2 separate regions of the Homo sapiens genome follow, and region 1 is linked to region 2. Evidence: fine-mapped expression QTL. A gene starts in region 2. The other region holds a variant in brackets. All regions are shown on one strand. Distances are between the middles of the regions.

Region 1 (16,404 bases), 26 kb before region 2:
ATCAACTTTTAAAGCTCCCACGTATGAGTGAGAACATGCAATATTTGTCTTTCTGTACCTAGCTTTTTGCACTTCACATAATGAGCTCCAGGCTCATCCATGTTGCCATGAACGACAGGGTTTTCTTTTTTGTGGCTGAATAATATTCCATCCTGTATATATACCACTATTCATCAGTTGATGGACACTTAGTTTGCTTCCACATCTTGGCTATTGTTCTGTCTCTTATAAGGATACATTTTGATGGATTTAGAAGCTACTCAGGAAATCCAGGTGATCTTGTCTCAAATTCCTTAACTTTATTAGACCTGTAAAGACTCTTTCTCAAATAAGGTCATATTCACAGATTCTGGGGATTAGGATGTGGGCATATCTTTTGGGGACCATCATTCAATCCAACACAGTAGTTTTCACTATCACCATTGCTACATAATTCATGAGATCATTATGCAAGTATGAGGAGAATGGGCGGGGAGGCTGACTGACATCTAGAGAGTGAGTTATCATCTATCCTGAACCTTAAGAGACTCTTGATAAGCATTCAAATGGTACACTAATATTTTTCCACTCTGAGAGCATTCAGATGGAAAAAGATATCCACTACCCTCTACCAAAATATTCTTGTTACTTCTAAGCTTCTGACTACCTGCTCAAATTATTAATCATTACCCACTGGTCCACTGGTTTTTGTTATTACTTAACTCAATCTATGACTTCTTCCAGGCAAATTAGACAACAGGATTACTTCTCTTTAGGACCAGCATTGAATTAAGAAGTACAATCATTTACCATAAGTCCACCAGTGCTGGCCCCAGGAAATCAGGAAGAAGCATCTGTAAACCAAGAGCTATCTATCTATCTACGTATCTATCCATTTATTGATTTATTTGGCATCTCAGGCTACTAATTAGTCACAGGAATCCTTCCATGAGGCCACTGGGGTTGAGAGAGAACAGCAGCGTAGCAGGATGATACCAGGAAGATGAGAATCCTCCTTGTGCAATTTAACATGTGCATTTAAGATTGGCTTGGAACCATTCCTGTGCATATGTGTGTGTGTATATGTGCACGTGGATGCATGGGTATGTGTGCATTTCACTTGAGGGAGTACTGCTGTGGATTCCTCACTTTATTTTTTGGTGAATGAGCTTGTGACTCATTCATAATGGGAAATTCAGATCATAATGCCAGGTATTTAGTCCTACCAAGGTCCAGTAGCATTTCAAGAGTTGTTTCTCAAAATAGGACTAGTTACTTACTGGAGAGGTCATAACTTTGATTTTTTAAATGATATTAGAGGTCTTGACTGAGAATTTACTACTGGAGCTCCATAAAGCATCCCAATCTGCTACAAACTCTTCAAGCTTCATTGGATCCGCTGGATCAAATGGGCTGCCAGGTAGAGTTGATTGCACTGCAGCCTGGACTGATTGCCAGGAGCTCTGTTGATATGAGTTAGTGAGGAGACAACATCTGGAACAGCAGCTGCACTTGGAGGCACCGCCTAATTAAGCTTACGATAATCCACACTCATTCTCCAAGACCCATCTGTCTTCCCCATCAAACTAATTGGAGAGTTGAATGGAGCTGCGATAGAAATGACCACAACCTACCATTTCAGTCATTGATGGTAGCACTAATCTCTCAGATTCTATGGGAATATCCTACTGCTCTTGGTTTTTCTTTTAGTAAGGAAGGTGAGATCCAGGACTTCCATCCTTGTTCTTTCCTTTCATAATAACTCTTATTCCTGAGTTAAGAAGTAAATGTGAGTATTTAGCCAGTTGTCTAGAGTATCTTTTCCAAGAACACACAGGAAATGAAGGGAAAAAGAAGAGGATGTGTCTGTAGGTCCCACTATGCCTACAGTGAGATGGGCTTGGGTCAAGACTCTATCACCTGAACATCATACATTTCTACTCTGACCATTGAACCACAGTGCCATTCTTCTATAACAGACATGTGTAATTTGGGAGCCATTATCTTAAAACAACTGAAAGGTCTACTTATATTCTTTTCTTCAGAATATATTTACACCAGAAAACGACCACAGGTCTAGAAATAGAGTAATGACTCTGTTTTTCCTTTGGTGAGCTTCATCCTGAGACATGGGGATTTTATGCAAATTTATTAGGAACTTTGTGATTGCCCATATATCTCAGATCTATAGACTCAATGATCAATAAATCAGTGTTAAATATCTATGTGTCTCTATTAGGGAAAGCACGAATAAATGGCCTCTGGAGGTTAAGTGCCTGACTTCTGCACCTGCCCTTCTCAATCATAGGATCTTTCCAATCTCCACTGTAATCAGGCAGACTATTTCAATATTAGTCCCTCCCATCAATATCCCCAACTGACAAGAGAAGCCACAATCACATTTTTGTAGATACTAGTAGTTCCCTCATAAGTATTTCTCAAGGCCTTAGTAAAAATGGTCATCTATGTCTACTTAGGCAACATAGTTAGGAAGTAGATGAGATTCATGTTATAAATTCGGTCATTTTATTTCTTTCTAGGTACTATTGTAAATAATTTATGGCATCTTAATTTTCTTTAGCATGATCAATAATCTATACAGCTTCCTGTATTAAAAGTAGCTTGCCCTCTCTATGAATTCAGATAATTGCACTATATGAAAAAAAAATAGACTAACCTAAGACTACATTTATTCACTTTTTGGTTGAGCATGTTTGGAATTTAATAAGACATATTCTCCCCTAGGTATTTTATTATACAAATTGTTAAGTATATTTATTTTGTGTATTTATTTTGTTGTATAAAACTATTACACAAAGTTTGACAACATAAATTAGTATGCTGAAATCCAAATTCAGTTACCAGTTTGAAATGAAAATGGGGGAAAGAGGGTTAGGATCTGAAGAGAACTGACTTAAGAGTGGGAAGGACTGCCTCTTCCAACAAAGAAAAGGGTTTTTACCTGAGCTATTTTGAATGCACCAACTGGCTAAGGAAGCTTAAAGAATTTGGATTCTGTGGCTATTTCAAGTCCTTCAAATCCTCCCATATATCTCCATTTTAATATTCAGAATGTCACTCTGTCCCATTTAATATTTTAACTCTCACCAAAGAAGCTGAAGAGGGGATAAGTAATGTGTTAACTTGGCAACTCAAGACTACCCTTTTTATTTATTTTTTGGATACCTCATCTCTACAGCTATAAGAGTCCAAATATTCTGCTAGCATCATCAGGTAAAGTTCCCTAAGCTTAAGTTTGTGACCCAAGAATTTAATATTTGAGCTTGTCATTCTTTTTTTATCCAAGCCACTTAGTTTGTCTAACAGCAGCCCCTCACACACCCAGTTAGTTTTTTTCAGCTGTTATTCAACATCAGCAAATTGATACCCAAAGCCTGATCTTCAATTTGCACTGGATTCCAAGTAATGGAAAGTTAACCGTTTTGTCATTGCTTACCACAGTCTGTCATCCTTCGATCACTGACACAACTGCATTTTCACTGCTTTTAACCCCAGTTATGCCAGGTACAATCCCAGACTTCCTCCTTTTCCCTGAGATCTGGTATATAATCTGCTCCTGGAACCAACTTTCATATTAGTCAAGATTGTGGCTGCCTAGAAAAAAAACAAACCTGGCTATAAAGCACCCAAAATAATTGAAGGATATTTATTGTATACTCCAAAATCAGTAAAAGCCCTGAAGGACAAGATTTTTAAATGGTCAAGAATCCATGGAGTATCATGTTAGCTGAGTATAGGGTCATATGACCAGACCTGAGGTGGTGGGATAGACAGAGAGAATTTATTTTTTCCTTTTTGAGATGGAGTCTCGCTCTGTCGCCAGGCTGGAGTGCAGTGGCGTGATTTCAGCTCACTGCAACCTCCACCTCCTGGGTTCAAGCGATTCTCCTGCCTCAGTGACAGAGGGAACTTCTATTCATCCTTTACTCCCATTAGCTTGCTCTGAATGAGAAGAGAAAATTAAACTCAGTAACTCACTAGAAGTGTGGAGGAGGCTATAAACAGATAAATATTAGTACCATATTACTGGATGAGAGTAACAGGTTGAGTGTCAAACGTGAGCTGACAAATACTTTAAAAAGCAATGATCTCAAACCCAATTCTATATGCTCTTCTACTGGGGCATATATTCATAGAGTCAGAGTCTTTATCTTATGGTTCCTTTAATCTCTTGCTGCATACAATAGCAACTTAAATGTGAATAAAATCCTTAATAATGTTTTCTTCAATTTCCCTTAATTTCTGATGGGTTTGAGCAAGTTAAACTACCTATGTGTAATTTTTCTCAAGGCTACTATAAGTAAAAAGATGTGTACAAGGAGCATTACATTATTTTTTACTTAGCTATAAGAGTTAGACATGAGAAGCATTTTAGTTAGAAGTATAAAGAACTTACTTACTTTAAATACTTTCTCTCTTTTATAAATGAAAATGTCCTTGTCTTTAATAATGTTCATCAATTTGAATATTCCTTTCTTTTTATGTCTTGGAGCTGTTAGACAGTATTTAGCTCTGAGGCTGACATTTGGTATTTTTACTGAATTTGATTTTACTTTCAGCTGTATTTTCAACCTTTTAAAAATATTGAGAATTAAGCACACTGACGAAGAACCAGGTAAAAAATTACGAATGCATATTTGTCAATAACATTAGGGACTCTGTGAGATATATACATATATATATGTGTGTACATACATATATACGTACATATATGCACACATATATATATATACTATTATTCTGAGACATTGCCTTCCTGAGGTCCTAACTGAGTCGGGATCATGCAAGTCTTCTCTGGAAATACAGTTGATCCTCTACATCTGTGGGTTCCACATTCAGGGATTGAACCAACTGTGGATCAAAAAAAATTGTGTTTGTAGTGGACATGTACAGTCTTTTTTTCTTGTCCTTACTCCCTAAACAATACAGCATAACAGTTATATTGTTTACATAGCATTTACATTTCATTAGGTATTACAGGTAATCTATAGATGATTTAAAGTATACAACAGGATGGGCATAGACTATATGCAAGTACCACTCCATTTTATATCAGGGACCTGAGCATCCTCAGATTTTGGTATCCAGAGAAGGTCCTTGAACCAATTGCTCATAGATACTGAGGGACAGCTATTCTTTCTTAGCATTTAAAATTTACAATCGCTCTTGTGCTTTCTTCAAATCTCATGAAGCTATAATGTCTCAGGCTACAGGTTCTTCCAGCCATCATTCACAAAATATTGATCCAACCTCCTACAGCTACAATTATGAGTGATGCCTTTCACAGTGTTGAAGATCAACAACACTTCTAATTGCCTCTCATTTGTTCAATTCTACTTGATCATTTCTCTGAAAATACCTCAAGTCAATATTAAACATGCATTTTACCATCAGCCATGATACTCTACCTGTGTCTTATTGCAAGTTGATTATTTACACCACTTCTGGAAGCCACAGTCTTTCAAAATTGTAGACCAGACCACAAAACACATGGCAAAAAGAGAGGCCCCAGTGCAGTGAGCCACACACACTGAGGAGCACACTCAGCTCGGGACAGCACAGCACAGCACTCTCTGAAGGTGAGAATTTGCAGCATGGTGGGTTCTTGCTCAATGGATGAGCATGTTCATTTGGTCATGAAGCTCTGACTGGCTAACAGCATACAAGAACATTTGGCAAGCACAGAGTTTACCAGTGTACTACCACACACACGTTTGTGTCTGCATGTGCATATTTTTTCAGAAAGATAGTTTAGAGACAAATGGCTTCATAGCAAATCCATGCTGCCCAAAGAAATGTAAAATCAGGCACACCTAGATTTCTGTATCCTTATTAATATTTGTGTATACATATATAATATTTGAAATGTCTGTAGAAAATGTCAAAAGACACTAAAATCTAAATCATATATATCTGTTGTGTATGTGTTTATATACAGTCTTTATATGTTGTTCAAAGATGGCCTATGTAGCCTGTTACTTTATCACAAACTTTTTTTATCTTTTCTTTTTTTGAGATAACATTCAAGAAAAGCTAGCAGGCTTTTACCCAATTTGGTTTGAATAGAATGGGAAAATGAAATTTCCTATCATACTCCATCTAATGCTTCCACCGAAGCACTTTTATTTTGAAATATTTTTTTATTTTCATGCTTCTGTTTAGAAAAAATTCTGCGTATATATTATGGAAATTGCATCCATAAACAGGTAAAATATATAGATGTGAAGATAATTTTCTTCTATTCCGCTTATTCTCTAATTATATTTATACCAGGGAAACACAACACATTTCGGAATAGTTTTCTTTGGGTGATTATTGATATTATTCTGTTAACCACTAGGTCTTCTCAAAAGTGTCACTGCTATTTTAATACATATTGATCTCTTTTTAAATTTTTTTAAAATTTCAATACTTTTCGGAGAACAGCTGGTGTTTGGTTACACGGATAAGTTCTTTAGTGGTGATTTCTGAGATTTTGGTGCACCCATCACCTGAGCACCGTACCCAATGTGTGGTCTTTTTTACCTCACCCCCCTCACACTCTTGCCTCCAAGTTCCCAAAGTCCAGTGTATCCTTAAGCTGATGAACTTCTTTGTTTTCAAAATATTTAGTTTGCTTTTTTCATTTTTTCTCACCTACATTTTTCTTCAAAATTAATGACTGCAAATCTTGTGCTTCTTTTTATTCTTTAACCCAATTTGTTTTTCTTTGTATGTTTGTTATTAACACCAATTAGCACACATACCCGCAAATTTTTATTCTTCCCAGCATTCCTACACATTTACAATTAGTGTCTATGTTCAGCACCTTCATTACTCTTCCAAATCACAGGACCTATTTTTTTTATTGCTTTTCCATTTGAAGCCCAATTTTATTACTTAGTACCTCTCCAGCAATTAATTCACTATTTTATTTTATTTTATTTTATTTTATTTTATTTTATTTTATTTTATTTTATTTATTTTATTTTATTTTATTTTAGAAACAGTGTTTCACTCTGTCACCCAGGCTGGAGTGCAGTGGGGCAATCATAGCTCACTATAACCTCGAACTCCTGGACTCAGGCGATCCTCCCACCTCAGTCTCCCAAGTAGCTAGGACTACAGGTGCACCACCACACCCAGCTAATGTTTCTGCTTTTTGGAGAAATAGTGTCTTGCTAGGTTGTCCAGGCTGGTCTCTAACTCCTGGCCTCAAACGATTCTTCTGCCTCAGCCTCCCAAAGTACTGGGATTCGAGGTATAAGCCATTGTATCCTGCCCGATTTACTCTATTTGAATTGTTGCTATGTGTCACATGAGAGAGAACAGCATGCTCCAATGGTCCAAGTAACCTCTTACCAAAGCACATACTCTGAGACTTTGCAGTTACCTCCGTGTGTGCATGTGTGTGTGTGAGTGTGTGTGTATTTAGTTTACTAACATTTTGAAGCTCCTACTGTATGAAGTACTTTGTATATAGCACTCCAGAGGGGACACAAAAGAAACAGCCTCCACCTTTAATATATTTATAAATTCACTAGAAAAATGCTTAGAAGAAGTAAAATCAATTATTCGTTAAAATGTTAATCAGCCCCAAATGGCATAGTTTATTTATGCAATGCTCCAGCAAATTTTTATCAATGCCTACTATGTACCAGTAGGCCAGGTCTAGGAGTGCAGCAAAATCATGGTATCGGGCCCCACAGCCTTTGAAGTGTGAACAGAAACCTCAAGTGTGGTGAGCATTAAAAAGGACAGACCTTTTGGAGTAGGCAACACAAAAACTCATCCTAATCATGGGGATCAGAAAAGGCTCG[A/C]TTGAGTTACTGATGTTTACACTAAAAAGATTAATAACATTGAGTAGATAAAAGGAAAGAAGTGGAGAACAAGGACTGCATTGTTGTAGTATTGGCTAAAGAAATTCTTAAATTGGGGTTTTAAAAAAGGCATTTGGAAAGAAAAAACCTTAAGAGGGGCATGCAAGTCAATCTAAATATATTTTTAAAGGATTAACTATGTTTTCTGTGAAAAATTCTGTGTACTGGGAGGGACATGGATTAGTGAAAATGACTGAGGAACAGATTCCAAGTGGAAGAAACACCTGAGTGAAGAATGGAAGGCAAAATTCTGTGTGTATTGGCTTGACCATGGAAGAGAAGCTAGGCAGGAAAGAGGTTGCAGAGAGATGAGGAAAGTCAGTAGAACCTTTACTATCTGAGAAACTATGGTCTAGAAAGTAAATACAAAATAAATGAGAATAAGAGGAATTCGAGGCTAGAAGGGGAATCCCTGGGATACTGTGAGTGTTATTGCCTGGATTAGGGTAATGCGGCAGATGCTTGGTGCCCTGCCCAAATCCCCTTGGCATCCCATTCCCATTTCCATACACACCACCTGCTACCTACCACAAGCATCTGTGACTCTCCATCCTCGGGCTTTCTCTGGCCACAGAAGCATGCCTGGTCTATCTGGGGCACAGGCCAGAAGTTTGGGGAGGTTAATGCCCTTAACCAGTGAAGCACGGAAATTAGCTGATCAGTACCCTAGTTCTCTTGCCCCAGCAGAGGGGGACAACTCTGGGGCATGTTCTACTCAGTCTTCCAGCGCTCTCTTTCAGGAGAGAGCACCGGGACCTTCTATTAGCTTTCTTCACTTCTCTGTATTACTTCTCTACTCTCTTAGCCTTTCTGAGATCAACTCCAAAAAAACTGCTTGCATCAAATCCTGGTCTCATAGTCTGCTTCTGGGGAAACTAAGTCTGAGCAGTGAGTTACTAAGAAAATTGAGGAAGAGTGGGGAGTCTTTGGAGATAGCGATAAAGAGATATTCCCTCGTTGAGTGTTTAACCTATGAATTAACTGCCCATCCCCATCATACACATCCAACTCCACGTTCCCCTGATAACAAAGATAACACTTCTTAGTTACATTCTGTTTATCCACTAAATGTACAATAATGGATCACACCAATACTGTCACTGAGAGAGATATGATCCCGCGTTTACAAAAATTTGCAAAAATATAATTTTTAGTGTTTTACATTATTGAGTCCTGGTTATTAATCTCTGCTTGTTTTGGTTACCACATCACAGTGAATGAGAACCCATAAAGTCAGGACATTTCAACATTAATAAAGACCTAAAACACACACAGGCAGAACACTCACTTTATAGGTATTGGAACTGAGACTTAGGGGAAAGAAATGACTTCAGCAAAGTCACACAGCTGGTGACAGGAGGCCTGGGAGTAAGATCTGGTTTCCCTTTCTCTCTGCCAAGTTCAACTTATACATAGCTGTCTTCCAGCAGGGCCAAATACCTTCAAAAATAATAGGAAACTTTGGTTTTACTACACACACACACACACACACACACACACACACACACACACACAAACACAGTAATAGACCAAGATGAACCACTTTGAAGGAAGTTGCCCTTAGTGTTAACAAAAGAGCAGATTTTAGACACAGAAATCACGATTCATAACATTCAAAAACTTGTCCTCCTGCCACGTTTTTTTTTCTGGATTGAAAGATAATAGAAGTTATGTATAGGAGAAGCAGTTCCCTACCCTCTGGTAATGAGAAGATATTTATCTAAGTGACCTTTGTTATTTAATACAGAGAAGACTTTTCAAGTAAGACAGGAAATAGCTGATATCTACTTATCAAAACACCACTCACCAGAATTTAGAAATGAAAATAAAAAAGGGAAAGATGAGTTTGAGCTGAAAACTTCTAGAAAAAAGCAACAAAGACAACCAATGTTGCCCCAGAGGTTGGCAAATGTTAACACAGTTGCGTTGTGGAAACTAATTTGGGTTCACAAAATCAGATGTGTAGAAAGTGCATCATTTTTATAATTATATAACTGAATTAATTTCCGTATCAAGCTCGCAGTCCCCCAGGTGACAAAACTTAATTTCCAACAAATCATGTCCTTGTGCCAAGGTTGCCTCTAAGTTTCTGGGAAACCTTGCAATGTGCTGGAGCATCCACGGGAGAGGGGGATGAACTTTGGATCTGGGTTTTCCATCCATACATGTTCCTGCTCCATCTGGCTCACACTGACCATCAAGCTCTTGCGGTCAGCTGAATTTCAGTGTCGTGTTTGTACCGTTTTCCTATGGCTGCATAGGAAAATGGTTTGCTTCTCCTCGTGCCATGCTGGAGAGTACAGGGACTCTCGGGAGTTAACTCAGTCCACTAGCCTGGACACCAATCATGACATTTCATCTGCTCCTGTGCCATGGAAAAATTCAGGGAACTTGCTGTTTTCCCAAGCCCTCCCCAGAAAGGCAGCACCAGTCTCTTCTATATCTCAGATTTTCAGCCGCTTCCAGGTCCTGGGACTCAGGCCATGGAGTACAGGCAGAGAGTTTCCAGGAACAGCCAATCTCTAATTCCCTCTCCTTCCCCAGCCCATGTACCTCCTCCAGCCTAGGCTCTATAACTAGGAAAACTGGCCCTGGCTCATTACAGATTCTTCCAAATCTTGCCTGTGTTTCGACCGCAACTTTTGACAATTCCATAAGGCAAAATGTTCACTCTGTTTTTTCTCTCTGTTTTGGATGCCTCATGGGTTAGCTGCTTAAGTAGATAAGATGTCACGGAATAACAACTGCAACAACAAAAAAAAGTAGAAGATTAATCAGCAATTAATATATGAAAATATGTCTTCAGGGACAGTGACACAAAATTTAATTATTATTCTACCATTTCATGTGTAATATAAGATCAAACAGTGATTAAAATCGGGACTAGTGAATGACAGTGAGTCTGCAAATAGTAGGCCGTTTCCAAAACAGCGTGGCAACAGATAGGAAAATCTTAGACACACACACACACACACACACACACACACAAGCTCTACTCAGAGTTTTCCACTAATAAAAGAAAAGCTTAATGCTGTATAAACTCACCCCCTCACTACCACCACCACCAATGTGTTGAAGTGCTAGCTTTACCCTACTGATTCGCTGGTGGGTTGAAGGGCTCATTATCCCACCCACTGTAACTTACCTATTGATGGAAGTGTCTCCTGTGGATCATTTCATTTTAATTGTTTTACTGTACCAGTCCCTAATACAGTCCCACCCAGATCCACAAGTTACTCAACTTTTCATCTTCACAACAATGAGATGAACAAGTTCCATCCTCTTGATTTGAAATGTACAAGAACAAGACCCACAAAGCACAACAGTGGCTGAGCTGGGACTGGAATTCAGTTGTCTTTATTTTCAGTTATGTGTTTTGTTCTATTTTGTTCTGTTTGTGTTGTTTATTGTTTTTATCCTCTGGGCCATGCTGATTCCAGTGTTAGCCGATATCAGAGATGTGAGCCAAGTATGTCTTAGCCTTGAAGCAGTTCATTCCTGACTTCTTTTTTTTTTTTTTTTGAGACAGAGTCTCACTCTGTCACCCAGGCTGGAGTGCAGTGGCGCGATCTCCCCTCACTGCAAGCTCCGCCTTCTGGGTTCACGCCATTCTCCTGCCTCAGCCTCCCAAGTAGCTGGGACTACAGGCGCCCGCCACCACGCCTGGCTAATTTTTTGTATTTTTAGCAGAGACGGGGTTTCATCATGTTAGCCAGGATGGTCTCGATCTCCTGACCTCGTGATCCACCCACCTCAGCCTCCCAAAGTGCTGGGATTACAGGCGTGAGCCACCGTGCCCGGCCTCATTCCTGACTTCTTTAAGGTAGTAGATGTCATCTCAGTCATCTCATTAGATGATGGCATTTGACTGGAATCTAAAAACATTTTATTTGAATTTTATGGAAATATATTTGTCTCCTCAGTAAGCAGCAGCAGTCAGTAGATAGAGTTAGTTCTCCTATATACAACAATCTTATTTAGCAAGAAAACATTTCTTAGAAAATAATTTCTAGGCTAGAGACACAATTTTAATTAAGTAGAAACCACTCAATATAATAGAAGCTACAAATAACTGTTTTGTGGATATCCTTCTCAGGTCAAAAATAATTTGGTAAAACAACTTCCTGAAATTATATCCATTTTAGGTCTCATTACATCATGCAATTGAAAGCTCAATGAAATTCTGATTAGTAGCCTGCTGTTAAATGATACCACATAAAAGGCAAAATGTCATTTAATTGATAAGCAACTAAAAACTTAACTAGGCTATATACCCTCAGCAAATGAGTATACATCAAAAACAATGATGTTATATTTCTTCATTAATCCTAAAAATGCACTCTGGCACATGCAATGTGCTGAGTGAAGTTTGTCTTTGTACCCAACACCCTCCTTCTTTAACTTGAAGACAGGCTCAGTCTCTCTTATTAACCAGTATTTATGGAGCACTTACTTGGGACAAGTTACCATGCTAACCATTATGGGGTCTTAAAATGAATAATAAAAATGGTCCCTTCCTTAAAGTATTAGTTTACTAAATATCTGTTACAGAAGATATATTATTTTTAATGCTAAATTTCTAAAACTAAATCCTAGACATTAGACAGGAGTATTGATCAAAGCTCAGGCAGCCAACCTTTGCAGGCACCAATCTTTTCTCCAACATTCTTCTAATTCCTGTCAATCTTGGCTGATGATCACAGCAGCAGCCATTCAAAGTGAGAAGAACTGTTCCCTCTTGAGCTCTATGGTCCATTTATGGCCACCTCACCTTTTCTTTACTTATTCATAGCACAGCTGAGGTAAAGCCTGCATATTTCAGCGAGGTTTATTAATAACTAAGGGACAAACAACAAAAGAGAAATAAACACACACACACGCACACAAACACACACACACATACACGCAAACCATGGCATGTGATGGTGTGATTTAGACCATATATGTATTTATTCTGTTTAAGGAGTCACTTCCCTGTCTAGCTCCGAGCCTCACATCACACGGAAGAGGCTACCTATAAACTTTACCACCTTAGAAGCACAGTTGAGAATTTCTAGATTCAGCAGGCAATGGACAGAATGGTTGTGATCATGGGCTTTGAGGTCAGTTAGAAATGAGTTCAAAACCCAGCTTTGCTATATTTCTGTGTAGATTTCAGCTGTAAGTATCTATAATCCTCTGAAAATTGCATTAATAATGCCTGCCTTATTGGGTTGTTCTCAGAATTAAAAGAAATAACAAGTACTTGCCACATCACAGACCATAACTGCACAATAAGTAGTATTAATGTTATCATCCTTATAACAATGATCATGTAAAAGCATAAGAGATATCAAAACCCAAGGTGAATGGAGTTATCTCTTGCTTACCTAGAGCCTACCATCCATACTTTCATTTTCTGTCTCATGGCCTGTTTTATCCTAGTTAATTGGTACCAAGAAAGTCCACTCCAATCAGTAAAGACTATGTGGACATTTAGCAACAGCACTACTAAAAGGCAAAAACAAAATAATCCACTCAGTAAATAAAAACACACAATCCTGCATGACATATACATATATGGAATGCATATAATTATGCATGAAGGGTTAAACAATAATTAAAAGATAATTCAAGGCTTTACATAATTAAATAGAAAACAAATACACAACCAGCTTTGAGGGAGAGAAAGAGGAAAAGAGAGAAATTGATAAACATGATTTTTTAAAAGACTCCCTGGTCAAATAAGTTTTAGAAATTCTGGTTTAAAAACATTAAAAGTTTCATATTGTAAGGCTTCTCATAATCTGTAATAAGCTAATGTGCACTATGGAGCTCACATACTGGGTACATAATTTGTAGTGTTTTCATAATTTATATAGGCTGGGCTTTTGCAAATGTGTCTCACTCTTTGCTTGTTTGTTTGGTGGTAGTACAGATAGTTCATGAACTAGAGTTCTTTGGAATACATTTTGAAAAATACTGGTAAATTCGAAAAAGTATTATTATTCTAGCAGATAGATAGCTCTATGTGCTCTAACAGGCTGGCAAGTTTTAATGGGAAAGAGGTTTTAATCTCTTTGAAAAATGAGTAGGACAGAGCATTCAACATCAGAATTAATAAATTGATACATAGCTACTTAAAGATATTTTTACATATTCATTTATTTATAACATTCCCTTTTTATTTCACTTATACTTTTAATATCCACAAGGGATTTGAGGTGGCTCCCAGAGGTATATTTACCCCTCACAACCACTTAGCTACCACTTCAAAATAGTCCTTTACATTGCATGATATATTGTGGTTTCAAAGTCTTCACATGCAGGTTTCTCAGAATATGATGTGCTTAAGAATGTTGGGGGCAGGGGTGTGCAGTCTTGTTGGTAATAGTGATTCTCAGCCTGCAGTCAGATTCCTGTACTTTTAGCAAACATCTCAGGTTCCTCTATATAGGTAATGTTAAGACTATACTTTTTAAAAATGTTGCTTTAGATTAACGTTATTTTAAAATAATAGCTAATCAAAACTTTATCTTATTAAACTCTAAAAGCATAGATATTTCTCTAGAAATACAGATGATGAATGGGTGGATAGATGACAGTTAATAGATGGATTCCAAGGGTTTAAAGATGATAGATAGATGATAGATAGATAGGTAGATAGACAGACAGATAGATAGATAGATAGATAGATAGATAGATAGATAGATAGATAGACAGATGACAGATAGATAATAGATGGATTCCAAGGCTTTTAAATACATAAGTTATACATAGGGATAATCTAGACCGGATATTTCTAGTTTTTTGCTGGAATAATTTGTCTCTGCAAAGAGGTGACTTGAACTTCTAACGTATTTGTTTCAAATTGAGAAATAAAGAAAGGAAGAAGGGAAGGAAGAAAAGGAAGAATGGGGAAGAGAAGGGAGGATGGGAAGGAGGAAGAGAACAAAGCTGGTAGTTGTCTTTAAATATTTCTATTTCATTAAGAGAGTTTAAAGGGCAGAATTTGCCTTATATAATCATGATTAAGGATAATAAATAATTTGATTTAGAGCCACTGAGTTCAATGCCTATAGAAAGTAATGGTTAAATCTCTTAGAATTATGGCAGCTTTAGTTTCGTTATCTTTAGTGGCCAACCCCTCTCCACCTGCTCTTCCAAATGAGGAACATGGAATCTGGGTGCTGTGATATGCTGAAGGTTGTAGAGGCAGTTAGTGACAGTGATAGGGTCAGTCTTTTATGATGACTGTTGGGTCCTAGCCAAAAGCTGCACATAAGGCTGCATCTGAGAACAGCAGGAAAGAGGTATACCTGTAACAAAGCCTGGGGTCAAGAGTTAACCACATTTCTGTGGCAGGCCCTGCAGCAGTCACAACAGCCTAAGTCATAATGTGTGAGGAGCAGGTAAAGTCAGCTGACTTGGCTGGCAGCCCTACCTAAGGGTCCTTGGCAAGGTGAAGCGCAGCAACCAGAACCTTTCTAGGGTAAACAAGCGTTAGGTCAATAATCTATATGTCTAGTTTCTTAACAACTAAGGGATAACTAAAGAAAAATAAACACACACAACAAAACAACATGGTATAAGATGGTGAGGCTTGCACGGTCCTTGGGGGAAGTGGTGCCTGCCCTTGTGAATCAGAACCACAGCTGTCAAGTTCAGCCTGTCCCAGACCCATCCCAACATCCCCTAATGATTACCTGCCATCTGCGTTCTTGGCCACACCCATCTAGGCACCAAAAACTGACTCAGCCTAGCAGAATTAGAAGCTCTGACCCTGCCCGCTTGCAACTGGGGTCTGGAAACTGTCCATTGCTGTCTTAAGTCATGCAGCCTGGAGGACAACAGAATCCTCTGTGCCAGAAAGAATATTACATTTCAAGTTCCCTAATTAACCCTCATGTCACAGCCAACTTGTCTAACTGACCCTTTTGAAAGTTCGTTTATAATGCTGGGTTTCTCTTGCAAGCAACTTCTCCATGGTAGGGAATCAGGAACCTATCTCTGAACGCCAGTCAGCCAACTGGGGAGCCAAATCTTTCTCACCTGGTGGGGGAGGGTAGGAAGATGAGGGAGGATGGGAGAATGTTAATACTGGAGGAGAGTAAGGTGGCAAGGAGCAGGAAGTGCATCAGGAACTTAGCACATCAGACCTCAGTGGAATGCAGGGGTCCAGCCACAATGAAGTTTTGAAAAGTAAAAACCCATTCTATATAAAAGTGAAAATTAGAAAATCACAGAAGATTTGCTGGGTGTGGTGGCTCATGCCTGTAATCCCAGCCCTTTGGGAGGCCAAGGTGGGCGGATCACTTGAGGTCAGGAGTTCAAGACCAGCCTGCCCAACATGGTAAAATATTTTATCTACCAAAAGAAAAAAAAAATTAGCAGGATGCATGCTTGTAATCCCAGCTACTTGAGAGGCTGGGGCAGGAGAATCGCTTGAACCCAGGAGGCAGAGGTTGCAGTGAGCTCAGATAACACCACTGCACTCCAGCCTGGGTGATAGAATTAGACTCCATCTCAAAAAAAACAAAAAAAGAGATTACCAAGAAGATTACTC
Region 2 (13,142 bases):
AAATAAAAGGATGGAGGAAGATCTACCAAGCAAATGGAAAGCAAAAAAAAAGGCAGGGGTTGCAATCCTAGTCTCTGATAAAACAGACTTTAAACCAACAAAGATCAAAAGAGACAAAGAAGGCCATTACATAATGGTAAAGGGATCAATTCAACAAGAAGAGCTAACTATCCTAAATATATATGCACCCAATACAGGAGCACCAAGATTCATAAAGCAAGTCCTGAGTGACCTACAAAGAGACTTAGACTCCCACACATTAATAATGGGAGACTTTAACACCCCACTGTCAACATTAGACAGATCAACGAGACAGAAAGTCAACAAGGATACCCAGGAATTGAACTCAGCTCTGCACCAAGCAGACCTAATAGACATCTACAGAACTCTCCACCCCAAATCAACAGAATATACATTTTTTTCAGCACCACACCACACCTATTCCAAAATTGACCACATACTGGGAAGTAAAGCTCTCCTCAGCAAATGTAAAAGAACAGAAATTATAACAAACTATCTCTCAGACCACAGTGCAATCAAACTAGGACTCAGGATTAAGAATCTCACTCAAAACGGCTCAACTACATGGAAAATGAACAACCTGCTCCTGAATGACTACTGGGTACATAACGAAATGAAGGCAGAAATAAAGATGTTCTTTGAAACCAACGAGAACAAAGACACAACATACCAGAATCTCTGGGACGCATTCAAAGCAGTGTGTAGAGGGAAATTTATAGCACTAAATGCCCACAAGAGAAAGCAGGAAAGATCCAAAATTGACACCCTAACATCACAAGTAAAAGAACTAGAAAAGCAAGAGCAAACACATTCAAAAGCTAGCAGAAGGCAAGAAATAACTAAAATCAGAGCAGAACTGAAGGAAATAGAGACACAAAAAACCCTTCAAAAAATTAATGAATCCAGGAGCTGGTTTTTTGAAAGGATCAACAAAATTGACAGACCGCTAGCAAGACTAATAAAGAAAAAAAGAGAGAAGAATCAAGTAGACGCAATAAAAAATGATAAAGGGGATATCACCACTGATCCCACAGAAATACAAACTACCATCAGAGAATACTACAAACACCTCTATGCAAATAAACTAGAAAATCTAGAAGAAATGGATAAATTCCTGGACACATACACTCTCCCAAGACTAAACCAGGAAGAAGTTGAATCTCTGAATAGACCAATAACAGGATCTGAAATTGTGGCAATAATCGATAGCTTACCAACCAAAAAGAGTCCAGGACCAGATGGATTCACAGCCGAATTCTACCAGAGGTACAAGGAGGAACTGGTACCATTCCTTCTGAAACTATTCCAATCAATAGAAAAAGAGGGAATCCTCCCTAACTCATTTGATGAGGCCAGCATCATGCTGATACCAAAGCCAGGCAGAGACACAACCAAAAAAGAGAATTTTAGACCAATATCCTTGATGAACATTGATGCAAAAATCCTCAATAAAATACTGGCAAAACGAATCCAGCAGCACATCAAAAAGCTTATCCACCATGATCAAGTGGGCTTCATCCCTGGGATGCAAGGCTGGTTCAATATACACAAATCAATAAATGTAATCCAGCATATAAACAGAGCCAAAGACAAAAACCACATGATTATCTCAATAGATGCAGAAAAAGCTTTTGACAAAATTCAACAACCCTTCATGCTAAAAACTCTCAATAAATTAGGTATTGATGGGACATATTTCAAAATAATAAGAGCTATCTATGACAAACCCACAGCCAATATCATACTGAATGGGCAAAGACTGGAAGCATTCCCTTTGAAAACTGGCACAAGGCAGGGATGCCCTCTCTCACCACTCCTATTCAACATAGTGTTGGAAGTTCTGGCCAGGGCAATCAGGCAGGAGAAGGAAATAAAGGGTATTCAATTAGGAAAAGAGGAAGTCAAATTGTCCCTCTTTGCAGACCACATGATTGTATATCTAGAAAACCCCATTGTCTCAGCCCAAAATCTCCTTAAGCTGATAAGCAACTTCAGCAAAGTCTCAGCATACAAAATGAATGTACAAAAATCACAAGCATTCTTATACACCAACAGACAAACAGAGAGCCAAATCATGAGTGAACTCCCATTCACAATTGCTTCAAAGAGAATAAAATACCTAGGAATCCAACTTACAAGGGATGTGAAGTACCTCTTCAAGGAGAACTACAAACCACTGCTCAAGGAAATAAACGAGGATACAAACAAATGGAAGAACATTCCATGCTCATGGGTAGGAAGAATCAATATCATGAAAATGGCCATACTGCCCAAGGTAATTTACAGATTCAATGCCATCCCCGTCAAGCTACCAATGACTTTCTTCGCAGAATTGGCAAAAACTACTTTAAAGTTCATATGGAACCAAAAAAGAGCCCGCGTCGCCAAATCAATCCTGAGCCAAAAGAACAAAGCTGGAGGCATCACACTACCTGACTTCAAACTATACTACAAGGCTACGGTAACCAAAACAGCATGGTACTTGTACCAAAACAGAGATATAGATCAATGGAACAGAACAGAGCCCTCAGAAATAACGCCGCATATCTACAACTATCTGATCTTTGACAAACCTCAGAAAAACAAGCAATGGGGAAAGGATTCCCTATTTAATAAATGGTGCTGGGAAAACTGGCTAGCCATATGTAGAAAGCTGAAACTGGATCCCTTCCTTACACCTTATACAAAAATCAATTCAAGATGGATTAAAGACTTAAACGTTAGACCTAAAACCATAAAAATCCTAGAAGAAAACCTAGGCATTACCATTCAGGACATAGGCATGGGCAAGGACTTCATGTCTAAAACACCAAAAGCAATGGCAACAAAAGACAAAATTGACAAATGGGATCTAATTAAACTAAAGAGCTTCTGCACAGCAAAAGAAACTACCATCAGAGTGAACAGGCAACCTACAAAATGGGAGAAAATTTTCACAACCTACTCATCTGACAAAGGGCTAATATCCAGAATCTACAATGAACTCAAACAAATTTACAAGAAAAAAACAACCCCATCAAAAAGTGGGCGAAGGACATGAATAGACACTTCTCAAAAGAAGACATTTATGCAGCCAAAAAACACATGAAAAAATGCTCACCATCACTGGCCATCAGAGACATGCAAATCAAAACCACAATGAGATACCATCTCACACCAGTTAGAATGGCAATCATTAAAAAGTCAGGAAACAACAGGTGCTGGAGAGGATGTGGAGAAATAGGAACACTTTTACACTGTTGGTGGGACTGTAAACTAGTTCAACCATTGTGGAAGTCAGTGTGGCGATTCCTCAGGGATCTAGAACTAGAAATACCATTTGACCCAGCCATCCCATTACTGGGTATATACCCAAACGACTATAAATCATGCTGCTATAAAGACACATGCACACGTATGTTTATTGCGGCATTATTCACAATAGCAAAGACTTGGAACCAACCCAAATGTCCAACAATGATAGACTGGATTAAGAAAATGTGGCACATATACACCATGGAATACTATGCAGCCATAAAAAATGATGAGTTCATGTCCTTTGTAGGGACATGGATGAAATTGGAAATCATCATTCTCAGTAAACTATCGCAAGAACAAAAAACCAAACACCGCATATTCTCACTCATAGGTGGGAATTGAACAATGAGAACACATGGACACAGGAAGGGGAACGTCACACTCTGGGGACTGTTGTGGGTTGGGGGAGCGGGGAGGGACAGCATTGGGAGATATACCTAATGCTAGATGACGAGTTAGTGGGTGCAGCGCACCAGCATGGCACATGTATACATATGTAACTAACCTGCACATTGTGCACATGTACCCTAAAACTTAAAGTATAATAAAAAAAAATAAAAATAAAAAAAATAAACTAAAAAAATAAAAAAATTAAAAAATAAAAATTCGGTACCTGAGAATGAAAGTAAATGTGTGTATATCCAAATTCCACTGCTGATCCTCCATTAAGATGCTGTCATATATGTTATTATGAATTTTAATTTAAAACAAAATGCCAGGGTAATAATATTTAAGGAAATGAAAATAAGTTTGCATGGCTTTTTAAATCTACTTTCTGGATATGTCTTACATACTTCAAAGGAGAGAAATACTCCTCATGAAAGTATAGCTTTTGATAATTATAAAAAGCAAGTGTAAATAGAAATAAATTGCTATTAACATATAAAGATCTTATCTCATTTTTCTGTAGTATTTTATTTTTATAGTTAGAGTGAGGGGGAGGCCATCCACAACAGCAGATGTACATATTTTAGTCAAAGATATTTTGTAACTATCTTCTTCTTTGATTTCTCCCCTGTCTATTATAATGAGGAAATTGAGATATTCAATCACTTCATGGCATAAAGCTGTGTGATAAAAAGTAAACTTTTAAAATAAACATAGGGAAGTGCAGAAAATAAATTATAGCACTGATTGAATACTTGCTATACAGAATAACTTAGATAAACTCTTGACACATGTTATCTCATTTAACATAAACCATGTTTTCTGGTTTCCTTACTGGCACCTACTACAAATAGCACCTGCATGTACTTGTTAACGTGAATTTAATGCCTTGGTAATTTATATCAAGTATCCAAACAAGGGCAGTCAAAGCCCAATTTTTGCTTACATCAACGAGGTTACAAACATCATCTATGACCCTCAAACCTCTGGATACATCTGCCTTCACGAGTTGACAAACACTCCCAGAAACTGTCTCATCAAAAACCAGAAAGCAAGTGACCACTGAGTCCATTTTGGTTTCTTGCATCCAGACTGTGTTATGTCACATTTTAAGATAAAAATATATACACATAGAGGATAGATAGTTAGATAGATAGATAGGTAGATAGAGAGTGAGTACTCAGAAGAGGACTTCAGAACTATCTCTAAGATTCTATCATTACATACAGTAAATGTATACCTTTTTATAAATTTTAAATAAAAGAAAAAGACCTTTCCATAAATTCCAAAATATGAGGTATCGATACATATAATGGTCTTCAGCAGGCAAAAGAGATTTGGAAAGAGATCTCCGAAGCTTTTTTTTTTTCCGAATAAGAGGTAAGAGTGGCAAAACCTACAAAATGTAGGTAAGTGAATCTACTGAATGGTCTCCAAATGTATGTATAGCCAAACGAATGAATAACTTGTCCTTCCTTGCATAATGACTTTTCCTTTGCTCCAATACCTTTCTTATTTCTGACTTCATTCTGTTGGTTTTAAAAATATGGACAGCTTTTAAGTGTAGCTTTATACATTAAAGATTGGATATTATCAGTTATTGGACAGGTACAGTGTGTCATACAGTGTTTCATGTGATTTGCAAACATAATCTCATGTAAGTAAGGTAGTCCTTCTTATCCAAGCTTTACAGATGATGAAAATATGGTTCAGAAAAAAATTAAGCCACTTGCTTAGATTCACACAGTTTTTGCAAGTTAGAGTTCAGATTTGAATCCAGGTCTTTCTGATTCTAAAATTTGAATTCTACCCACTGTGTTATGCTGCTTCACAGAGAATCATCTGAACATGCTGTACTGTGTCTTGGGATGCATTTTTATCTATAGGTAATATTTAATGTAGCAGCATTTTTCTATATGTATTCCATGGATGGCACTTATTTTTAATAGACTTTATTTTTTAAGCTGTTTTATGTTTACCAAAAAATTGAACAGGAAGTACTGAGAGTTCCCATCTATCCCCTCCCTACCTGTTATCCTCCTATTATCAACATCTTGCAATACTGTGGTATATTGGTTACAATTAATGAGCCAATACTGATACTTTCATCAGTGTTGTGGTTTTCTTCATATAGAACTTGTAGATATTTTGGTAGATTTATATCAAAGTATGTCATTTTGTTGTTGTTGCTAATGTAAATGGCATTGTGTTTTTTATTTCAAATTCCAATTGTTCATTTCTGGTATATAGAAAGCAAATGATTTTTGTATATTAAGCTTGTATCCCGCAATATTACCATGTTATTTATTGGAATGCCACTTTTTAATATTATTAAACATTCTTATCATATGATGATCTGAAGATGTCCATAAGGTGACAAGTTGCCTTATTATAAAAGACCCTCTGCTCTTTAATTCTAAAAAGTATATTCTAGATTTGAGATTAAAATTATTTCATTCATCTGTCTTCATATAGAATATTTAGTCATCTCGGGGATTTCTACAAACAATTCATGAGTTACTTTTAATTGAATATTATCATGCTTCTCCAAACTACAATGTGTAATTAGAAACAAAGAAATTGTATTTAAGTGTTACAGATTATGAATCTGCATGGGTGAATATGCTTCTGGAAGAACTGGTAACAAAATGACTTTTTTCCATTGCTCGTGAAATACTTGTCCCGAGGCACTCTCGTGTTTTTCTGGCCACGTATATGTGACATAAGCTCCTGTTGGGAGTTTCCCACCACAGGTATGCATTTCAGGGCACATAGTGGATGGAGCAGGTCAGGGCTGCTGGACCATGGAATCAGTATGATCAGAAGGGCCCTGAAGAAGTCGCAAAAAAGTAAAAAGTTCTGGTGTCATCCCATGTAGGCCGACAACAACAAAAAAGTTATAGGTATACAGTGTATCTTTATAAAATAAGATCAGGCCAGGCGCGGTGGCTCACGCTTGTAATCCCAACACTTTGGGAGGCCAAGGTAGGCAGATCACAAGTTCAGGAGATCAAGACCATCCTGGCTAACATGGTGAAATCCTGTCTCTACAAAATACAAAAAATTAGCCAGGCATGGTGGAACGCGCCTGTAGTCCCAGCTACTCGGGAGGCTGAGGCAAGAGAATCACTTGAACCCAGGAGGCGGAGGTTGCAGTGAGCTGAGATCACGCCACTGCACTCCAGCCTGGGCGACAGAGCAAGACTCTGTCTCAGAAAATAATAATAATAATAAATAAATAAGATCAACAAAATTTGATAGGTATAAAGATCACTGTATACCTATCACTTTTTTGTTGTTGTCAACCTACATGGGATGGCCCAACACTTTTTTGTTGTTGTTGACCTACGTGGGACCACATAATTATCAAGATAGAAATAGAAAAGCTATTCAAAATGTACTTCAATGTCATATACAGTGTATATTTATCACTTTCTTAAAAGCTTGGGACAGTGTATAAAATTACTTTTGTTGATATAGTTTCAATTTTCAGAGTGTAAAAACTGTCAAACCTAGATAAGACACTCTACTTTGAATGTAAAGTAAATTTCTAAAAAGTACTTATCCTTTTTTAGGTTTAGATAATTATTTAGAGGTGTGAGAGCATGGAAAAAGATATGACAAGAACAAGACAGTTTCTTATAGTAATCTGGTTCAAGAAATAATACAAACATATATGAATGAATAAATTATCAAGGTCAAATTAATGTAGCAGAAACTGAGACTGCCAAATGGACATACAAGAGAGTCAGCCGCAAAGGATCATGAAAGTTTACATGACCACAGTTATCAATTTGGAAATAGAAAATCTATTTAAAATGTACTTAAATATCATATTAATCTTCTATACACTTCAGAGAGGTGGAGTTTCATTGTTGCTGTTGTTACTAGTGTTTTTGTTGAATAACCCATTCTTTAGGAAGCACATAATGAAATTAACTCTGACTCCCTCCTTCTTCCCACACTGTCCCACAACCTCTTCCTCTGCCAGCAAGACTTGGAAGGAAGATGATTGTTTACAAGGGAAGGTAGATTAGTTTATGTTACTCCCAGATCTTGTTACACCATGAAATCATATAGTAAACATAGCTTCTAGAATTTTAACTTCCATATGTTATATTATCAATTCAGACCCCCCAAAACTAAATTTCTTTGAATATCTAATTTTAATAGGTTAGATGCTCTCTGCCAATTTTTCTCCTTAATATACAAACCTAACATGATAATAAAAACCAATAACAAAATCAGAGGCTTCCTAGACAGTAGCCCATCTTCATTTCCAGGTTAAAGATTTTGGTTGAGACTATTTGCAAGCATATAATAATAATTCCTGTGCAAGAGAGTCTCTATTGAATGATACGTACTCTGAAGATGGTATGAAGGAAAGAGGCTCTTAGGAAGATCCAAGCTGGCTGCCAAGCTTCCATATCCACTTCAAGGTTTCCTGTAATATTAAATGCTTGGCCTTCACAGAAGATATTTCCAAAGACAACATATACATTATGTTGTATATGTTGGGATAGTCAGGGCTGGAGGCTCCCAAACTTGTATATGAAACATGACATAACAGAAAGAGCAGGCTATTTGGAGGGAGAAGGTTGGGTTCAAGCCCAAGCCCTCAATCTCATTGACACTGCAAACAGGGACATCACTTAACTTCTACGGGTCCAGTTCACAAGTCTGCCTTACCTCTCTAGATAATAGTTTTGTTTTATCAAATCAAATGATGTGAAAGTAAGAACAAAAGAAGACATTGGTAAGATATTCAAGAGGTTAAAAGAGGATGTGGTAAGTGATTACCATATTTCTCCCTCCTCTTTCTTCTCTTAGTTTTAACTGCTTAGCAAAATATTTACTGAGTGCCTGCTAAGTTTCAGCGATAAGCCCTGGAGATACAGAGGGAAAAAAAAAAATGACATGGTCCCTGACCTGAAGTAGCCAAGGAGTGACATTTACCTGACTTTACTTTTATAAGGATCACTGTGGTTACTACATTGAGCATACATGACAGGCAGATGACGATGCAAGCAGAGATACTTGGTTTATACACTACTGTATCATTTCAGGCAAAAAAAAAAAAAAGGTAGCAGCTTGTACAAGGGTGGTAGTAGCGAAAGTACTGAGGATTCAACTAAGATGAGGACCAATGACTAAGCTTTGGATTTAACACAGCAAAAAGATATTCAGTGTTCTTGAAGCACAGACAACGTTTAATGAAAACTAGGAGATCAACAGAGGGTTACTCATAACAGAATGAAAATTCCATGAGGCACATTGGAAAGAATTGGAAGGGAGGTCAACAGGAGATGGAAGCATAGGAGAGAAACAAGCACCAGGTTTAGAGAAGCTTGCTTCTGGGGCAATAGATAAACACTTGATAGTCGTGCATGCACAGAATTCTGTGCAGTTGGCCCAACAAGGGTGTGGTGCCTCGGGGTAGAATTCATCCCGAGTACGTGAGGAGACAATCCTCTGCCTCCATAGTTGCTCACTTTCATGCAAAACCAGCTGTTACCCATTTGGTTGGGGAACTGAGGTAAACATAGTGGAACTGAAGAGGATTGGAGTGGAGTAGCAGAGTCCTAGCCCTTGAATAGAATTTTTGCCAGGTAATTGATGAGAGTGTGGATGAGCACAATTATACCTATTATTTATTGGGTACATACTCTGTGTCTGCCATGCTTAATCTTCACCACAGAAAACTTAAAGATACGTGTATTAGTCCATTCTCACGCTGCTATAAAGAACTGCCCAAGACTGGGTAGTTTGTAAAGGAAAGAGGTTTAACTGACTCACAGTTCTGCAGGGCTGGGGAGGCCTCAGGAAACTTACAATCATGTCCTTCTTCACGTGGCAGCAGGAAGGAGAAGAATGAAAGTCAAGTGAAGGGGGAAGCTCCTTATAAAACCATATGATCTCGTGAGAACTTACTATCACAAGAATAGCATCAGGGGAACTGCCCCCATGATTCAATTACCTCCGACCAGGTCCCTCCCAACACACATGGGGATTATGGGAACTACAATTTAAGATGAGATTTGGGTGGGGACACAGCCAAATCATATCATGTGTTATCATCTCATTCTAAAAATGAGAAAAGTACAGCTCAGAGAAACTAAGTAATGTACCTCATCTACCCATCTTCACACAGTTAAGTGACAGCATTAGGATTTGAATCTCTCCCTCTTTCCATTTTGCTTTGAAGAGCCAAGGAAACATGTCACATTTTAGAAGATAAGGAGTTAGGATTAGGTGGAAACACAACATTGGTAACACTGGGGAGACGGGACTGAAATAGTCTGTATAAGAAGCAGAACTGACTTAGGGTCAGCTGAGGTTTTTGGCCTTCCAAACCAATCCTTGTAGCTTATTCCGGTGCAGGCCTTGGTTGTTAGTGGCTCCTGGGCTGCCCCACAGTACCTATGAAAAAATGGAAAGGAACAGTTACCTTCTAATTTTTCCAACCTAAAAGAAGTAGTTAGTATTTTAGATAACTTTCCAAGTGTTGGTATAAGTGAATAGTTTTCTTTAATTAAGACTATCTCATAAACTCTTACCTTTTCCAAATTCTCACCCTTTCAAGTCTGACAGGAATAAAAACTGTTGTTACCATGCATCACCGTCACCAGAGCTTCCTTACTTTTTACAAGCAGCTGAGCACACCATGGGGCTGAGGAAAGTACAGAATTGTTGCCAAGTGCAGGTAGAACTCGTGAACCTGGCATGTTCAAAACCACGAATAATAAATACAGGAGTCAAAGGACTTGTTTTTGGCCAGGATTTAACTCTTTAGGAATGTATTCTTCAAAATATTTAGGGACACATTGCTTATTATGTATTTTTATCTTGGTTCAAAGCTTTCATTCCTAACGACTATCCCCCTTATAATTTCACACAAAAGTGACATATACATAACTTTGATGATTTGCTCCAAGAATCAAAAAGCCAGAGAAATGGCAACATAATTATATTTGCTCAATATCCAGTACTATCCCAACTCACAACTCTAAAAGGGCATGTTTCCTTGTTTGTCTTACTGTTTAAGGTAGTCAGCACCATTACAAGTTTCAGCATATAAATTAATAGAACACAAAGATCCACTGTATTTAACTTTGATTGGCTTCATGTACTGAGGGTTCTTAGTATTTGGTGATGTAGATTCCAATGGTATTAACATTATTCCCTAAGCTTGGAGCAGCAGTGTTTGATTTCCTTCATTTTTCTGGTGTGTTTTTTTTTTCAATTTAATGAAGACCATGCAAATTGATAAAACACTAGCATTTAATCTTTACTTTTTTTTTAAAGAAAAATACATTAGGGGACATAAATAAACTGTGACACAAATAAACTTCTTTTTATCCAGTGTCCTGACTTGGGGGTCCAGTTTCAATTTCAAGTATTCTGTCCCATCGTTTCCATTTAAGTCACATCAGATTGTCATAATATACATCCAAGTTTTGAATTCAGACAATATAGATATCACAGTATGGGTAAAAAGAGCCACTGATTTGGAATCAGACAAGTTAAATTCTCATTTAAGCTCTGCTACTGATTTCTGTGGGACCTTGAAAAGGGGACTTAACATTTCTAAGCTTAATATTTCCTTACTCACAAAGTGATGCAACTGGTCTAGGCGACCTCAAAATTCCATTCTATTCTAAAATCTTATGAATATGTAATATTTTATAGGAAAATAGTGTATAAATATTATTTCAATGATTAAAGATATAGAACCTATTATTTTAAAACCTAACATGTCCAGCTCTCATTGGTTTGCTTTTTCAAAATATATTATTTTCATTCCACTTTAATTCATGACTTTTTTACAAGTTAAGTCTTGAATTGTTTCTACTATATAATATAGTTTCAGATTTTTTAACATACGGTGCAGAAAGTTTGCTCTACAGCAAAATGTAGAAGAGGAAGATAATATTCCTCAGACATAGATAGTTCTGAAGCTCATCCAAGTAGACAGGTAAAATAAACTTTGGGAGAAGAAAACCGACATTTAAAATTGGTAAAGATACAAGTATTTTCGCAGAAATAACATCTTATATTTCCACAGCAATCTGTCTCCTTTTCTTTCTCCCAAACACAAGAAAAAGGCATTTCAAGTTACTGATTAACTTAAACATACTGATCTTTGGCTCGTCTAAGGTCCACGAAAGTTGACTAAACATTCTTCTACCAAAGAGAAAAACTAGAAAATTGAAAACATTTCTTAAAAAATTATATTATCTGTTATCCTGATATATCAACCCAAAACCTCATTTGGTTGGACTATGTTTTTATTTGTTCTTTTTGCCAGAGAAATCGGGAACTTCTAAAGGAATTATTTTCTTAAATATAAAACTAGGTTTTTGTTATCACAATAAACTCTATGTTTCCATGAATTGCCCACTTTCTCCTAATATTTTCCACTTTAGAATGAGAAGCCTAGGTTTGTGCAGAGCTGATTCTATAACCACGGGGATTCTTATGTATTGTTTGCTAAGCCTATGTATGGAGGTAAAAGAGTTAAACCTTTAAGCAAGGAGCCATTTTGACTAAAAATAGAAAAAACTTTGGCCAAGGAATCAAAATGAATACACCACTGAAAATAAGTTATTATATGTGACTTTACAATATTAAAGAGGAAAAAAATATGAAGAGACGTAGAAAATTTATCTACTATTATTGCACAACCACTCTGTAAGAGGCTGCATGATTCAATTTGGGGTGATACAAAAATGAACAAGACAGGCCTTTTCTCCAAGAGTTTATGTGATATTAACCACAAACACACTCATTGAAGGCAAAATGTGGTTTAATCCTGTGACAGGGGTACAACACTCTGCAGGAGTCCAGATTGCTGATATTTGAGCCATCCTTGAGATTAAGAGGATTGTGACAAGAATAGACAGATAGGAAGAATATTCTGGGTAGAAGGAACAAAAGCACTGTCACAGGCGATGAAGAGAGCCATGTTTGAGGAAAGGCAAGTGATGCTACCCATGTAGGGTGTATTGGAAATAAAAGAGTCAAAGAAAAATAATATTAATGGGAAGTGGCTTAAAGGATTTGTTAACAAAACAGTGAAGAAACATGACGAAACCAGTGCTTAATTAAGACAAAGAGTCTGAGCAGTATGCAGAAAACCTTGGAGTGGGGAAGACTGGAGGCAAAGAAATCTGTTAGGAGACTCTTTCACTGGGACTGTGGGTACACTGGGAAACAAACAAATGACTACTATGGTTTCTCAATCCCTACTAGTCTAGAAGGAGAGGGAGTCTGCTATATGTAACGTATGGTATCAGGGCAGAATGTTGAGGAATGAAAGTTAGGGTACCTTTCCCAGTTTAGCTGGAGAAACATAGCGTTAATAATTATCATAGAGCAATCTTCTGGCTTAATTGCAAAAGTATGTGCAGACTCATTTTGATACACTATGGAAAGAG

Evidence for each region.
Region 1: its variant is fine-mapped to the expression of LINC00402 in whole blood (TOPMed, PIP above 0.99).

Annotation. Positions count from the first base shown.
Region 1 is chr13:74,251,132-74,267,535 of GRCh38, reverse strand. LINC00402 (long intergenic non-protein coding RNA 402) reads right to left here. Exons shown (of 2, transcript NR_144451.1): 2 at 7,560-10,603. It also overlaps a transcript of KLF12 not described here. Among named protein-coding and RNA genes, the nearest start is that of LINC00402, 28 kb to the right of the region's middle. The variant A/C (reference allele first, on the strand shown) is at 7,800.
Region 2 is chr13:74,226,680-74,239,821 of GRCh38, reverse strand. LINC00402 (long intergenic non-protein coding RNA 402) reads right to left here and starts at 8,378. Exons shown (of 2, transcript NR_144451.1): 1 at 8,070-8,378. It also overlaps a transcript of KLF12 not described here. RefSeq lists a cis regulatory region at 11,819-11,832 and an enhancer at 11,754-11,898.